Homo sapiens: one gene and its partner. The protein of the gene in region 1 interacts with the protein of each later gene in a pairwise test. Each region holds a gene or a part of one and is shown in the gene's direction. Other genes may lie near its edges.

Region 1 (5,946 bases):
TTTTCTCCGCCACCTTTGAAGACTCTGTGTGGAAGTTTGCCCAGAAAGTGGTCCCAGACCCAAACGTTATCAAACTGAAGCGTGAGGAAGAGACCCTGGACACCATCAAGCAGTACTATGTCCTGTGCAGCAGCAGAGACGAGAAGTTCCAGGCCTTGTGTAACCTCTACGGGGCCATCACCATTGCTCAAGCCATGATCTTCTGCCATGTGAGTAGCAGTGGCAGTGGCAGGCCTGGCCCTTCCCTCTCAGCCAGCTCCCCACAGGGCTCAGGAGGACTGGATGCCCCTGGGTGCCATGGGAAGAAACGAAGTGGTTTGTTCTCCTAAGGTTTTAGTGAGTCGTAAGAGGGAGACTTTGATTCCACTTCTTAGTGATTACTTGGAGAAAACCCCAAGTAACAGCCAATGAAATAATTTTTAGATTTTTAAGAATATAAGCTGGGCGGCTGGCACGGTGGCTCATGCCTGTAATCCCTGCACTTTGGGAGGCCAAGGCGGGTGGATCACCTGAGGTCAGGAGACCAAGACCAGCCTGGCCAACATGGTGAAACCCCATCTCTACTAAAAATACAAAAAATTAGCCGTGCGTGGTGGTGTGCACCTGTAATCCCAGCTACTCAGGAGGCTGAAGCAGGAGAATCGCTTGAACCCGGGAGGTGGAGGTTGCAGTGAGCTGTGATTGCTCCATTGCACTCCAGCCTGGGTAACAAGAGCGAAACTCTGTCTCAATACAAAAACAAACAAACAAACAAAAAACCAACAACAAAAAAAGAGTATAAGCTGGGCAAGTACCTGTAGTCCCAGCTACTCAAGAGGCTGAGGTTGGAGGATCGCTTGAGCCCAGGAGTTCAGACCAGCATGGGCAACATAGTGAGACCTCATCATTAAAAATATATATATGGCTGGGCACAGTGGCTCACGCCTGTAATCCCAGCCTTTTGAGAGGCTGAGGTGGGGGGATCTTCTTGAGCCCAGGAGTTCAAGACCAGCTTGCACAACATAGCAAGACCCCATCTCTACAAAAATTTTAAAAATTAGCCAGGCGTGGTGGTGCATGCCTGTGGTCCCAGCTGCTTGGGAGGCTCAGATGGGAGGATTGATTGAGCCCAGGAGGTTGAGACTGCAGTGAGCTGTGACTGTGCACTCCAGAGTGGGCAAGAGAATGAGATCCTGTCTCAAAAAATTTAAATTTAAAATAAAATTTTAAAATATATATGTTGTTTGTTTGTTTTTGAGATAAGGTCTTGCTCTATCATTCAGGCCAGAATACAGTGGCATGGTCATAGCTCACTGCAGCCTTGGCTCTTGTTACTAGGGCTACAGGTATGTGCCCCATGCATGTCAGCCTAATTTTTATTTTTATTTTTGTAGAGGTGGGGTCTTGCTATGTTGTCCAGGCTGGTCTCAAACTCCTGGCCTCAAGCAATCTTCCAGCCTCAGCCTCCCAAAGCCTAAGACTACAGGCACGAGCCACCATATCTGGCAAGAACATAGACTATTTAGGAATGAAGATCTTTGGCTAAAGCCACACTCTTCCTAGATACAAAAGTAACAGCAGTTACATAACTTATCTAAAAAGAAAAAAATCATATGACTAAAATTCTATTTGAAAGAAAAATTTTTTTTTGAGATGGGTTCTTGCCATGTTGTGCAGGCCAGCCTCGAACACTTGGGCTCAAGTGTGTAGCTTGGACTACAGGTGTGTACTACCATGCTTCATTGAGAAATTTTAAGCCTAACCTCCTAACTGGATTTAGCAGGGCCTTCATGTATTTTAATCGTGGCAAGCCACTTTTTAGCAGTTGTCTTCCTTTTGTTTTTAACAGGTCTCTTCATAAAAAACAATTCTTTTCACTACAGACTCGCAAAACAGCTAGTTGGCTGGCAGCAGAGCTCTCAAAAGAAGGCCACCAGGTGGCTCTGCTGAGTGGGGAGATGATGGTGGAACAGAGGGCTGCAGTGATTGAGCGCTTCCGAGAGGGCAAAGAGAAGGTTTTGGTGACCACCAACGTGTGTGCCCGCGGTGAGCAGAGGACGTGTCCCACCTGGTCTGCCAGGCTTGGGGTCCCAGGCCCAGTTAGAGCCAGAAATCCTTGTACACAGGGAAGTCGGATGGTCTCAGGGAGATGGGTGGGGTTGGTGACACTATTCCTTTCTAGGAGAGACTGTTTGGATTTCCCTCAGGTGATAAGAACTCCCACAGAAGCCAGGAGTCCTGACTTGGTGGAAGGAAATGTACAGGCATCTGACTGGTAGAGAACAGAGCCTGCTCTTCCAGGGATGCCCATCTCCAGAACATTGTGTCTCCCAGAGGCTTACTGACTGATTTCATAATTTTGTTGGCACCTGCCAAAGTTTTGTTCTTTTCCTCCAGGTTCTGCTGTATGCCTGTATGTGCCCTCTCTTGTACCCAATTCCCAGAGTTGGCCTGTCCCAAATGTATTTATTTATTTTTTTGAGACAGAGTCTTGCTCAATGGCCCAGGCTGGAGTGCAGTGGCACAATCTCAGCTCACTGTAACCTCCGCCTCTCAGGTTTAAGTGATTCTCCCGCCTCAGCCTCCCGAGTAGCTGGGATTACAGGCGCCTGCCACCAAGCCCAGCTAATTTTTGTATTTTCAGTACAGATAGGGTTTTGCAGTGTTGGCCAGGCTAGTCTTGAACTCTTGACCTCAGATGATCTGCCTGCCTCGGCCTCCCAAAGTGCTGGGATTACCGGTATGAGCCACCGCACTCGGCCCCCCAAATTCTTTCCCTTTACCCGAAGTTGGTATGCATTGACTTACCTGTGGACAACAGTGATTTTTGTCTCCTGTCCTTACTTCTCTCTGTCTCCAACTCTCAGGGACTCATTCATCACCTCTCCCTGCACCCCACCCCCTGACCCGTGCTAGTTTGGTATCTATGCCTGTAGCTTTGCTTTGGGGCATCATCTGAATCTCATACTGCACGGCCTTTCAGATCTGGCTTCCTGCACTCAATGTCATGCACGTCTCTTAGTGCCGTGTTCCCTTAATGCTGAGTCATGCTCCATTGTATGGATGGACCACATGACTGATTTGCCTCCTGTCCTTAGTCCTCTCAGCCTCCAACTCTCCTTCCTGCAGGCATTGATGTTGAACAAGTGTCTGTCGTCATCAACTTTGATCTTCCCGTGGACAAGGACGGGAATCCTGACAATGAGACCTACCTGCACCGGATCGGGCGCACGGGCCGCTTTGGCAAGAGGGGCCTGGCAGTGAACATGGTGGACAGCAAGCACAGCATGAACATCCTGAACAGAATCCAGGAGCATTTTAGTGAGTCCCGGGGAGGGTCCTGTGCCTGGCGCCCTTTGCTAAGTAGGGCGGGGTGGTGAAAGGGGTAGGATCTTCTGTAGCCCCAAGAGAGGCTCTGTCCCTAGCACACTCCCCTCCTTTCTGACCATATGGCAGTTCTCAGGGAGCACACCTGGAGACTTCAGGACCCAGGGACTCCAAGAACAGCTCCCCTGTGACTGGGCTTCGGGGCGTGGGGCTCTGACTGTTGCTGTCAGTGACTAGGGGCCCTGCTGCCCCCTGCTTAGGCACCCGGAGCCTTTGGGGCTGAATGAATGATTGCTGTGGCCCAAGATGGGGCACATTCCTGGGCAGGGTAGAGACCTGTGTATCTTTCCCCCAGATAAGAAGATAGAAAGATTGGACACAGATGATTTGGACGAGATTGAGAAAATAGCCAACTGAGAAGCTCCACCAGCCACTGATGCCAGCCCTGGCACTGCCCCTGCACAGGAGACAAGTGCGTTCAGGGCACAGGCCCCGACATCACCCCAAGGACAACGGCACAAGTAGAGAGAAACTACCTACCTCACTTCAAATTATGTTTGGACTTGACAAAAATGTATGCAAATGATGGGGGATGGTAGAAAAAAATTATTTACACAACCTTGGAAGATTAGGCATGAATACACAGAGATTTACCTTTTGGAAGTTTCATCTTTTAATTTGGCCAGTGTTTCCTTCATGCTAATCTAGATGCTGTGGCTGATTACTTGCCCAGGATCTCCTGTGGCAGCCTCTGCTTGTTCTCTGGCTTGGAGTGGATGGGGCAGCCTCCAGCTCCTGTGGAAGTAATGGAATAGTGGTGGAAAGGGAACACAGAGAGGGAGGCTTCCAGTAAGATAGGTGTGTAAGCCCAGCCATCATGTTTGGAATGGCATGAGGCAGCAGAGGAGGCCTGAGAGCTGCTGCTTTGGACTTGGGGGTGGGACAGCTCATCTGAGTATTGCCAGCCCCCTGTCCTAGTGCCCACAGCAGAAGGGAATTTGTTAAATAAGCATGGACCAAAATGCCAACCTCTCGGTTGTGTATATGGGTTTGTGTCACAGGACTGTGACCTGTTCTCGGTGGGTGCAGTCTGTGTAGAGTGCACATCTGATTATTGGTGGGTCCTGTGCCTGTGCTTAAGCAAGTCCTGTGGAGAAGTCATCATGGAGAATTAGTGGTGGCCCTAGCGTGCCACAAAACCTGGTCTCATGAGCATTTGCAACATCCCTTTTACATCCTTAATATCCCCTTACCCCACAGTAGCCCCAAACAAATGTGATCTGAGGTTTAGATCCTCAGTGAAAATTGTGGTTTCAAGTCTTCATGGCCAGCCTCAAGGCAGTTCTAGATGTGATCAGCAGTAGTCACAAATTCTTGTTTTGTCTCCACACCCAGAAGGCAAGTTTTGTCAGAGCTGGGGAATAATTTCAGATATTTGACATCTTGATTATAAAGGGCTTCTGAACATCTGTGTTTACTGCCTTTGGAATACAAACAGGTGCAACTGAGGGACTAGCTACACTACCACCATTTATCTGTCCAAGGCAAGAGTATCACCAAGGCCTTTGCTCCAGCCTTACTTGGCATCTTTGCGCAAGATAGTCAGAGCAAACAATAGTAATGGACACTTCTCACACCTGGCCAAGGCTGTTGGTACCCACGAAATGACAGCAAAGATGAGAGGAAACTGAATTGCAAGAGCAATATGAAACCCCAACCAAGAGGAGTACTCTGCAGTTCTTTGGCTTTGGTATAGAGTGGCCACTTTCTCTAGGACCTGGAAGAAGAGTTTGATGGCTAAGAACGATTGTGATCCTAGGTCTTCTTTGTACGCATCTCCGTATTTAGGCCAGATCTGCCTCCTGGGAAGGGAAGGGGCCAATGTCAGCCTCCAGGTGATTTCTTTAATCTGACATTACAAAGAGACCAACAGACTGCCAATTCTACCACATTCCCCTGGTGGGTACTCGACTATGTAGTTTTCTCTATGCTTCTGGTCAACTCTGACACATCTTGGAATTCTTGTAATAAGAAAAGAAATTTTTATACTTTTTTCTCCTTCCCTGAGTCCTGTGGACCAACCCTGAAATACTAAAAACAAGGGCAATAATTAAAGAAGTATAGACTCTTTAGTAGGCCACAGGCAGAGCAGACTCCCACCTTCTCAAGCACATACAACCTCTCTACTGGTGTAGCCCCAAGTGTGAGAAGGAAAGTGGGAAGCGGGGTGCTGCAGACTCTTTGACAGCAGGAGGAATGGGAATCTGGTAGAAGTATAGGTCAACAGTTCTTTTTTTTTTTTTTTGGAAACGGAGTCTCACTCTGTTGCCCAGGCTGGAGTGCCGTGGCACGACCTCGGCTCACTGTAACCTCTGCCTCCCAGGTTCAAGCGATTCTCCTGCCTCGGCCTCCTAGGACTACAGGTGCACGCCACCGCACCCAGCTAATTTTTGTATTTTTAGTAGAGATGGGGGTTTCACCATGTTGGCCAGGCTGGTCTTGAACTCCTGACCTCAAGTGATCCACCCACCTTGGCCTCCCAAAGTGCCAGGATTACAGGCGTGAGCCACCGCGCCCAGCCAACAGTTATTAATCAGGGGTCTTGGACCTCTAAGAATTCACTGGATGGGTTTCATGGAG
Region 2 (8,066 bases), on another chromosome or scaffold:
AAAGGTAAGGAACTGAGGCTACTCTAAACATGTCTCTTTCCCTCTCCCTCCTCTTTCCCCCCTCCACTCACTTCTTCTGCTTACTTATCTTGCACTCGACCCACCTAAAACACAAGCCTTGACCTGAGCAGCCATCACCAATGAGCAGAGAGAGGTTTCTCAGCCTCTTACTTCAGATTCTTACAAGAGGAATTCTGATTGGCTCAGTTCCTCTGATGGAGCCACATCCACTCAAGTCCAGCCTAGCCCAAGATCCCATAGATCGGGTGTATACCTGTGGTGTGATCAGCACTGCCTTCCCCTCCCATTTTTTTTAGAGTGTAGACTGGCAAACAAGGAAACTTGTCTCTTGCAGAGATGTGGGGTGTATCTTTGTCCAGGCCTTCACCATGAACAAGGCTGTGGTGCTCACGCCACCGACTTAGGAGGTCTGACCTTGAACTCTGGGAGACTTGAGGAATGTCTGATGACTCACAGGCTGACATTGAATCAGTCCATGTCCTTAAATCTTGCAAAAGGAAATCTGCTTATTTTATATTCCCTCATGGACTTCAGGGCTTTGTTTAACAAATATTACAAACCTTTCCTGCTCTGCTGGAATTAAACAGCTTAAAATTCATCCTTTTGGCTACTTAATTTTCTTGCTTCTTTTGCCAGTGAGATTATAACATTCTTGAAGGGAGAATTTCAGGTGTGGTGAAGATCTTAGAGATCATTGAGGCCAACCTTCTCATTTTACAGGTGTGGAAACTGAGGCCCAGAGACAGGAAACGTCACACAGCAGGAGAGGGGCAGGTGGGACCCGGGATCCCGTTTCACACACTGTGTTCCCCAGAGTACCTTGCCATGTCTTAGGCACAGCATTGTCCCAACAAATATTCAATTGCTTTATTTCATATTCTGCTTTTGCTTTTCTCAAGCTCATTGTTCTCTATTCACATCCCTTCTCTACCACCGACTTCAATCTTAGGGGATCACTTTGCATGTGCCTTTCAGGTGTTGGTCTTTGGGGTTGTGTAGTGGAAGGTGAGATGAGGCATGGGTGAAATTTCACCTGGTTCTATCAAGCTGTTATCTCTCCAGGCCAACACCACGGTAACAGAGCGTAGACACTAGACTACCAACTTCCTTCCTTCTGCACTGTCAGTGGCCTCCAAACTGCATGATGAAGCCACTCTCTAGCTCCCACAGTAAGTCACTAGTTCTGCAATGCCTCCTGGGCCAACACCGCATAACAGGAATTTTGGCCACTGCTGACCTTCTCCCAGTGGGAAGTAACAAGTGGATGTAGCCCCACCTTCCTCCCAGAAGCCTTCTCTGATCCTTGTAGCCGACTGGGAACTCTTAGTTCATTTGACATCACTCTCACACAGTGGAGCGCTTCATTCATTTTCCTGTTATCTGCTGGGCATCAGCCTGGTCTCAGCTCCTGAAGGTAGGTAGCTTCTCTCCCCCAGCACCTACCTAGGCTCCCACCAGGCCTTCAGTCAATGTGTGGACTGACCAGTAACTTTTCCCTGGAACAGCTATGGCTACGGGGGTGAGTGGAGAGAAGTCATGGCAAGAAAGGAGAACTAGTACTTTTTGCTATTATCTTAGGCAAGTGTGAATGAGGAGAAGCAACTCCTTAAAACAAACAGAAACATTCTGACTTTTCATTTCTAGGCAGACAGGGAAACTCCTGGCCACTCAAAATCGGTCACAATTAAACCAATGCTAGCATCATTTGCTTCAGGAATCTCCAGTTCCTTCACTCTGCACCCATTAGCTCTTCCGACCCAAGCCTGCAGGTTGGGCATGAAATCAATCCCAGAGCAGAGAAGGAACAACAGACAACGGGCCACATAAGCCCCAGGCCTCCCACCTGGGGGAACTCTGGTCTGAGGCATCTACAAGGCCTTCCCCTCAAAGATCCCCATTCCAGCCTGAAATGCCCATCATCAGAGGCCACTGAAGAGAGCGCTCAATAAGAAGACAAAAGTGTCAGAGTTAGAGGAGAGAATCAGAAGAATATCTTATATGTTAATGACAGTTTATTAGACTGGAGGTAGAGCCCAGAGCCAGGCACTGAGGATGTGGAAAACAGGAGGGAAGTTTGGGTGGGCAGGCAGCAGCAATGCAAAGCCCCAGGCACTGCCCAGAGGAGGCAGCATTAGGTGGGGCAGCAGGGTAGGGAGCAGAGGAGCATGAAGAACTTTAGCTGATGTGGGTTAAGAGAGCTAGGCCAGGAGCAGGGGAAGGTTAGAATTGGGTCCAGGTTCCTTGAAGACAAACCTAACTGATTTCACATATTAAGATGTGTCACCCTCAGGAATCCTTCCTGCACTACTAGCTCTGCTGGTGTGAGTCTGCAGAAAGAAAAATTCAGGGATCATTTTTGAGGGCCAGAAAGACTCAGGACAAGAAAGGGCATCAGCCATCTTTGAGCACTTTCCATGTGACACAGTCAGCATAAACCCACGATCACCACTGGTTCTCACAAGGCCAAGAAAAGTTGTTGAGTAAGTGGCCCAAGGTCATCCCTTATGAATGTTAAGTAAGCTGCCCAAGGTCACAGAGCCAGGACGTATCATGCCTGGGATTCAAACCCAGGGGTCACACTGACACCAGAGCCTGTGGTTCCCACTGCCCCCTCACCCTAGGTGCATACCCCAAACGGAGGTGTGTGCTCTCCGTGGAAGCTTCACGTTCCACATGTTGCTCAACCTCTAGCCTCTCCTCACCTGAGGGTGCGATTTAAGCAAAAGCAAAGCCAAAACCCAGACAATTTTATTCTTATTTCCTTTGCAGGTGGCATGCCTGTCACACAATATGTAAAAACCAACAATGACAACAGGGTAAGTAAATGGGAATTTGCTGAATGTGTATATTCCAGTATTATTATATAATATTTTGTAAACCCAGGAAATTGTCCAGATGTTAAAGCATACAAATAACTCACTGCTGAGCCAATGAGGCATAAATGCTAAGAGGGACAAACCAACGGGAAGAGTCAGGTGTGCTTAAACCTGTTGCTTTGGAGTGGACGACGGTTGCCTGCCACCCAGACAACTGGCCTCTAGTACCCACTCTGTACCGAATCATGGCTGGGCATGAGTTGCTTAACTCTCTGGGCCTGTTGCCTCCCTCCTGAAGGGAGGGAATGACAGCCACCATGGCCTTTGGTACAAGAATCAAATGAGTTGTTCTATAGGATGTGAATGTCTATGCTGTTCTGTGTCTCAAGCCCGGGAGACAAGTTCTCCACACAAAACAAAATCCCACCCATCCTTCAAGGCCCATGCCACTCTCCATGGCTAATTTTTTAAATTTTTTGTAGAGAAGGAATCATGCTATGTTGCCCAGGCTGGTCTTGAGCTCCTCAGGCTCCAAAACTGCTGGGATTGTAGGCCTGGGACCTTTCGAATTAGCTCTCTTCTCTCATCTGAAGCCTTTGTACCCTTTAACCTTAATCAGGTGCTTATCCTTTCCTCTCTCTTTGTTAAAAATCTTAGAAATTCTTGCCGGGCACGGTGGCTCAAGCCTGTAATTACAGCACTTTAGGAAGCTCAGGTGGTGGATCACGAGGTCAGGAGATGGAGACCATCCTGGCTAACACAGTGAAACCCCATCTCTACTAAAAATACAAAAAAAAAAAAAAAAAAAAAAAAATTGGCCAGGTGTGGTGGCGGGCGCCTGAAGTCCCAGCTACTTGGGAGGCTGAGGCAGGAGAATGGCATGAACCAGGGAGGCAGAGCTTGCAGTGAGCCAAGATCACGCCACTGCACTCCAGCCAGGGCAACAAAGAGAGACTCAGTCTCCAAAAAAAAAAAAAAAGAAAAAAAAACTTAGAAATTCTTTGCTCAAGTATCACTTCCTCCAGGAAGTCTTCCTGACCCTCTCCCAGACCCCACCCACCCTCCATCCAGTTGGCTGCTCCAGGTTGTGTGGTGGGGGGAATTTCACAGCACTTTGTGTTAAGCGCTGACTTATCCCTTGTATAATACTTTCATTGACTGTAGTCCCTAATACTGGACTGAGCTCCTTGAGCGCAGAGACTGTGAGTCTTACCTGTTTTGGCATTCCTAGACACACCTGGTCTGTGGAAAGTGCTCACTAAATGTGAATATAAACTAATGAATAAATGGGTTTCTACAGCAGTTTATACTGCATCACACAGTTCCTCTAATGAATTTCTAGCCCCCTTCCCTGTTGGGGCATACAGTATTTTATTCAGTATTTCTCCTGAAGGCCTCTCTGTGCCAAGCTCAGTTTTAACCAAAACATTGGTGATCTGGTTAAGTCATTACTGAATTATCCACTACGTTGAATTCTCCCAACCACCCCGTCCCAGCCCTTAGCTTGGCCGAAGGAAAATTAATTGGTTGCAAAGTGCGTATCTAATTACAACAGCCAGCCCCCGACACAGAGATGCTCAAATGTTAATTATAACATATGCATCTCAATAACCGACGGTGGCATTTAGTGCAGCATTAATCACGCCACTTGGGCCCCCCAGTGCATACACAAAGCTCCTTTTCATCTGCCATTAGCACAGACTTTGCACTTTCGGCACGGACGTTCTCATCCTTAAAGCCTTTCGGACTCTAAAACCAACGTTTCCCTGTAAGCCTGGACTGCGCCTAAGCCCCCAGTTCTCCCACCGCAGAGGCCCCCACCCAGGGCTGCGCCAGCGCCGTGGGGTCGCTGGGCGGCGGGTTTTGGCGTCGCTAGACTGGGCTGTCTTGGCAGCTAAGGCGACATCCCGAGCGTCCTGGGGCCACCCTGCTCTCCAGGGCCCGCCATCCTGGAAAAGAAAGGCGAACTACATTACCCAGCAGGCCTCCAGCCGCCCTCTTTCCTTTCAAGTCTTTGCACGTGGCCGGAGGGGAGGGCGGGGCCTGAACGTCACTCTCCTACATTCTCTTTCCCTGTGTCAGATCAGGGATCATTTTTTTTCCTTCCTCTACTCCCTCCCCCCTACCCGCCCCTCCCTCCCTGTTTCCCTTCCCTCCCTCCCTCCCCTCTCTGCTGGGTCTGTGCGCTGGGGCGCCCGATCCCCTCCGCAGCTGGGACGCTCCGAACTCGAGGCAGGAGTCGGCTCTCCGGAGCCTCGTCCCTCCCTTCCCCTTCCCTGCCCCCTTCCCCCACCCCCGACTCGGGCTTGGCGCGGCGGCCAGAGGAACCCCGAGGTGAGCATCTCCTCGCCCGTCCTCCTCTTATAGTCATCTCAGCTTGCTGATCGATTCGGGGACCCGGGAGGAGGGCTGCGTGACGTGGGCGTGCTTATAGATAAATCCGGGAAAACCGCCCCAAACAATCAGCCCCCTTCCCCCCATCCCTGCTCCTGGGCCAGCGGGGTGTCCGCACCCATCTACCATCCCCTCCTCCCCCTCGGTGGGGAACTGCACTCCACAGTGTCGCCCCCTCCCTGGGTTTGTCCCATTCCCTGCCGGGTTCCCCGCCCCGCGGGGTGTCGTGGCCCTGGAGCTCCGGCGCCAAGGGGGGCTCTTGGGGGACGCACGGCTGGAGCCCGGCTCGCTTTGGAGCTGCGCGGTGTAGCCGCTGTCATGTGCCGGGTTCCGACCTGGGAGGAGGAAAAGAGCGAGCGCGATTCCTCTCCCTTTTGTTTTGAAGCCCGCATTTGCTGCATCGAGCAGTTGGTTTAGTATCAGCCAAACTTGCAGCTGTTCAGACCGCGCTCCGCCGAGGTAGGGAGCCCGTCTCGGGGTGGCGTTTGGGGGCCGGGGGCTGCGGCACTCGGGGCTGCGGGAGGGACCCCGAGAGTGTGTCGCCACGCCGCCCCTCCCTTCCCCGGTGACTGATTGTGTCTGTGGCAGCGGGCGTGTGTGAGTGTGCGCGCCCGTCCCCGCGGGCTCGGGGATGTCTGTGGATGGCTGTCGTCTAGACAGGGCGCAGCCCCCTCCCTGCGTCCCCGGTGAGCCCGCGGGCCGCGGGGGGAGCGGGGGATGGGAGCAGAGGAAGAAACCAAATCGGTGGACCCGTTGCGGTCTCCCCTTTGGTTATTCCCAACGGTTGTGGTTCTGTTGGCTTTTTTTATTATTCCTGTCGCTGCGGTGCAATCGGGCCTGGGGAATAGATACGCCCGGCGGAGAGGGGTTCACTTGACAGGCTCTGAAAAGCCACCTCTGGGTGGCGAGTGACCCGAGAGGCCGTGGGGTGGGCTCCGGCTCGGGTTCATCAGGACGACGAGCAGGTAACTGTCCCGGGCGCCGGTCATGGGGGAGGGCGGGCGGGGGGGCGATGGCTTGGGCTGCGGCGAAGGTCTGGGGCCTCGGAGGGCCGCGTGCCGGTGCCTGGATGTGGCCGGAGGGGGCGTCCGGGACACCGCGCGCCTGAGCCGAGTGTTTCTCTATTGATGGTAAAAGACAATCGGGAGGGGGGTGGTCCGAGCCCGTTATCTGGGCGGCGTTGGCTCTGTTTGGTTCCGCGGAGTTTTCAGGGTTGGGGCTGGGGGGTGTGAGCACCGCGGGGTGTGCGGCGTGTAGAGGGGAGGGCTGACTGGCGGCGCCGCGTGCGTCTCCACCCCGAGGAGTGAGGCGTCGCCTCCCCCGCCCGGCTGTTTGTGTGTACACACGGCTCCGGTGTGTGTGGGGGGCGGGGACCGCAGACCGCGGCGTAGTGGGGACAAGCGTGGGCCCCGATCCTCCGCGCGACCTGTCCCGCCAGCCCCCTCCTTGTCTAAGTCGGGGTCGTGTGTCCCCGCGCGCGCGCGCCCGAGTTACTTGGAGAGGGGACCGTGCGGCTGTGGGCCGGGGAAGACCGTAGGGTCGCGTGTGCTGGTCTTCGGTGCAGGAGTCCCAGGTCCGCTGTGCGGCCGGAGTCACACAGCCCCTCCCTCCGCGTCCGCGACGCCCCGTGACCCGGCAGACTGGGGGTCCACCCGGCGGCGCGGGGGGTTGGTTTGGCTGCGCCGCCCCCAGTCCACGCTGGGGTGACCCCGCACCGAGGCGTTCTATGGGTGTGCGTGCCCGCGCTCGCCGCCGCTGCCTTCGCAGACCGGGGAGAGAGTCAGCGACTGCCAACCGCAGCCCCGGCTCTTCAGTCTGGGGACAGTGGGAGCCCAAGCCCAGCGCGCCCCAGCCCGGCCCAGGCCGCCGCCCGCCCGGCGCTGTGTCTCTGCGGCCCGAGGATTATCCCCCAGTCCAGGGGCCCGCGCGACCAAGGAGGAAGCCGCTGGAGCCGCCGGCTCGGCCGCGGCTAGAGCCTCCGTAGGGCGAAAGTGACACAGCGCGAGAGAGCGCCGCCGCTGCTGGAGCCAGGGCCGAGAGGAAGGAGCCGCCCAGAGCGCAGGGAGGGGCCGCCGGCTGTCCGTTCCCAGTTCCTCCTGCCCAGGGCCCGATCTGGGCTGAAAACCTCAGGAATCCAGGCTCCTAGCAGGCTCGGGCTGCGCGAGGAGATGGCCTGGCTTTCAAGAAAACCCAATTATACGTGAACAGAATGCACCGAACAGACGCTAGAGGATGGCCAGGACACGCTCAGGTTGTCTGGGGAAACTCCTGAGTGTTTGACACAGGATTCGATTTACACACAGATCACCTCATCTGTGTCAAGTATCTGTCCTGGATAATGGATGCTCAGAGGCAGCAATTTTGTAACACATTCTAGGGCACAGTGTCATCAGTGATTAACAGCTTGCTAGAATAATAATATGTTTGTATGACCTTACAGGGCAGGTTTTCTTCCCCCAGAACCTCCCCCCTCCCCCGCCAGATATCATAGCATTTATTAAGAGGGTCCTGTGAGGTAGGAGAGTATTAGCCCCATTTTACGGATGAACACACTGAGGCTCAAAAATGTGGCTTGCATAAGGCCTCTGGGTGGGGGAAGGGCCACATTCCCCCTTTTCTCAGCTTATGGCATTTAATTAATAGTGGCCACTTTTTTTCTGAGTATGGATTCTTGACACCTCAGGAAATACTGAAGCTAAAAAATAGAGTATATTATGCTGACACATATTCTTTCTCAAAACACTCTTGATTTGTTAACCATTCCTAATGAGAGCAGCCACTAAAGAACGGAAGTCTGCATTGCTGTTATTACCACGCATTTAATAATTTGCTGTT

What was found. Proteins that work in one complex are often made in the same cells at the same time.
Region 2: the proteins of DDX19B (region 1) and CTIF interact in binary tests that used the Homo sapiens proteins (3 or more experiments, as listed by UniProt).

What each region holds. Positions count from the first base shown.
Region 1 is NC_000016.10:70,329,860-70,335,805, forward strand, and holds the end of DDX19B (ATP-dependent RNA helicase DDX19B), read left to right. Parts: coding exon 1-209; intron 210-1,862; coding exon 1,863-2,025; intron 2,026-3,108; coding exon 3,109-3,300; intron 3,301-3,661; coding exon 3,662-3,723; 3' UTR 3,724-5,446; downstream 5,447-5,946. UniProt on the Homo sapiens protein: ATP-dependent RNA helicase involved in mRNA export from the nucleus.
Region 2 is NC_000018.10:48,534,142-48,542,207, forward strand, and holds the start of CTIF (CBP80/20-dependent translation initiation factor), read left to right. Parts: upstream 1-4,889; 5' UTR 4,890-5,171; intron 5,172-5,546; exon of another isoform or gene 5,547-5,690; intron 5,691-5,861; exon of another isoform or gene 5,862-6,196; intron 6,197-8,066. UniProt on the Homo sapiens protein: Specifically required for the pioneer round of mRNA translation mediated by the cap-binding complex (CBC), that takes place during or right after mRNA export via the nuclear pore complex (NPC).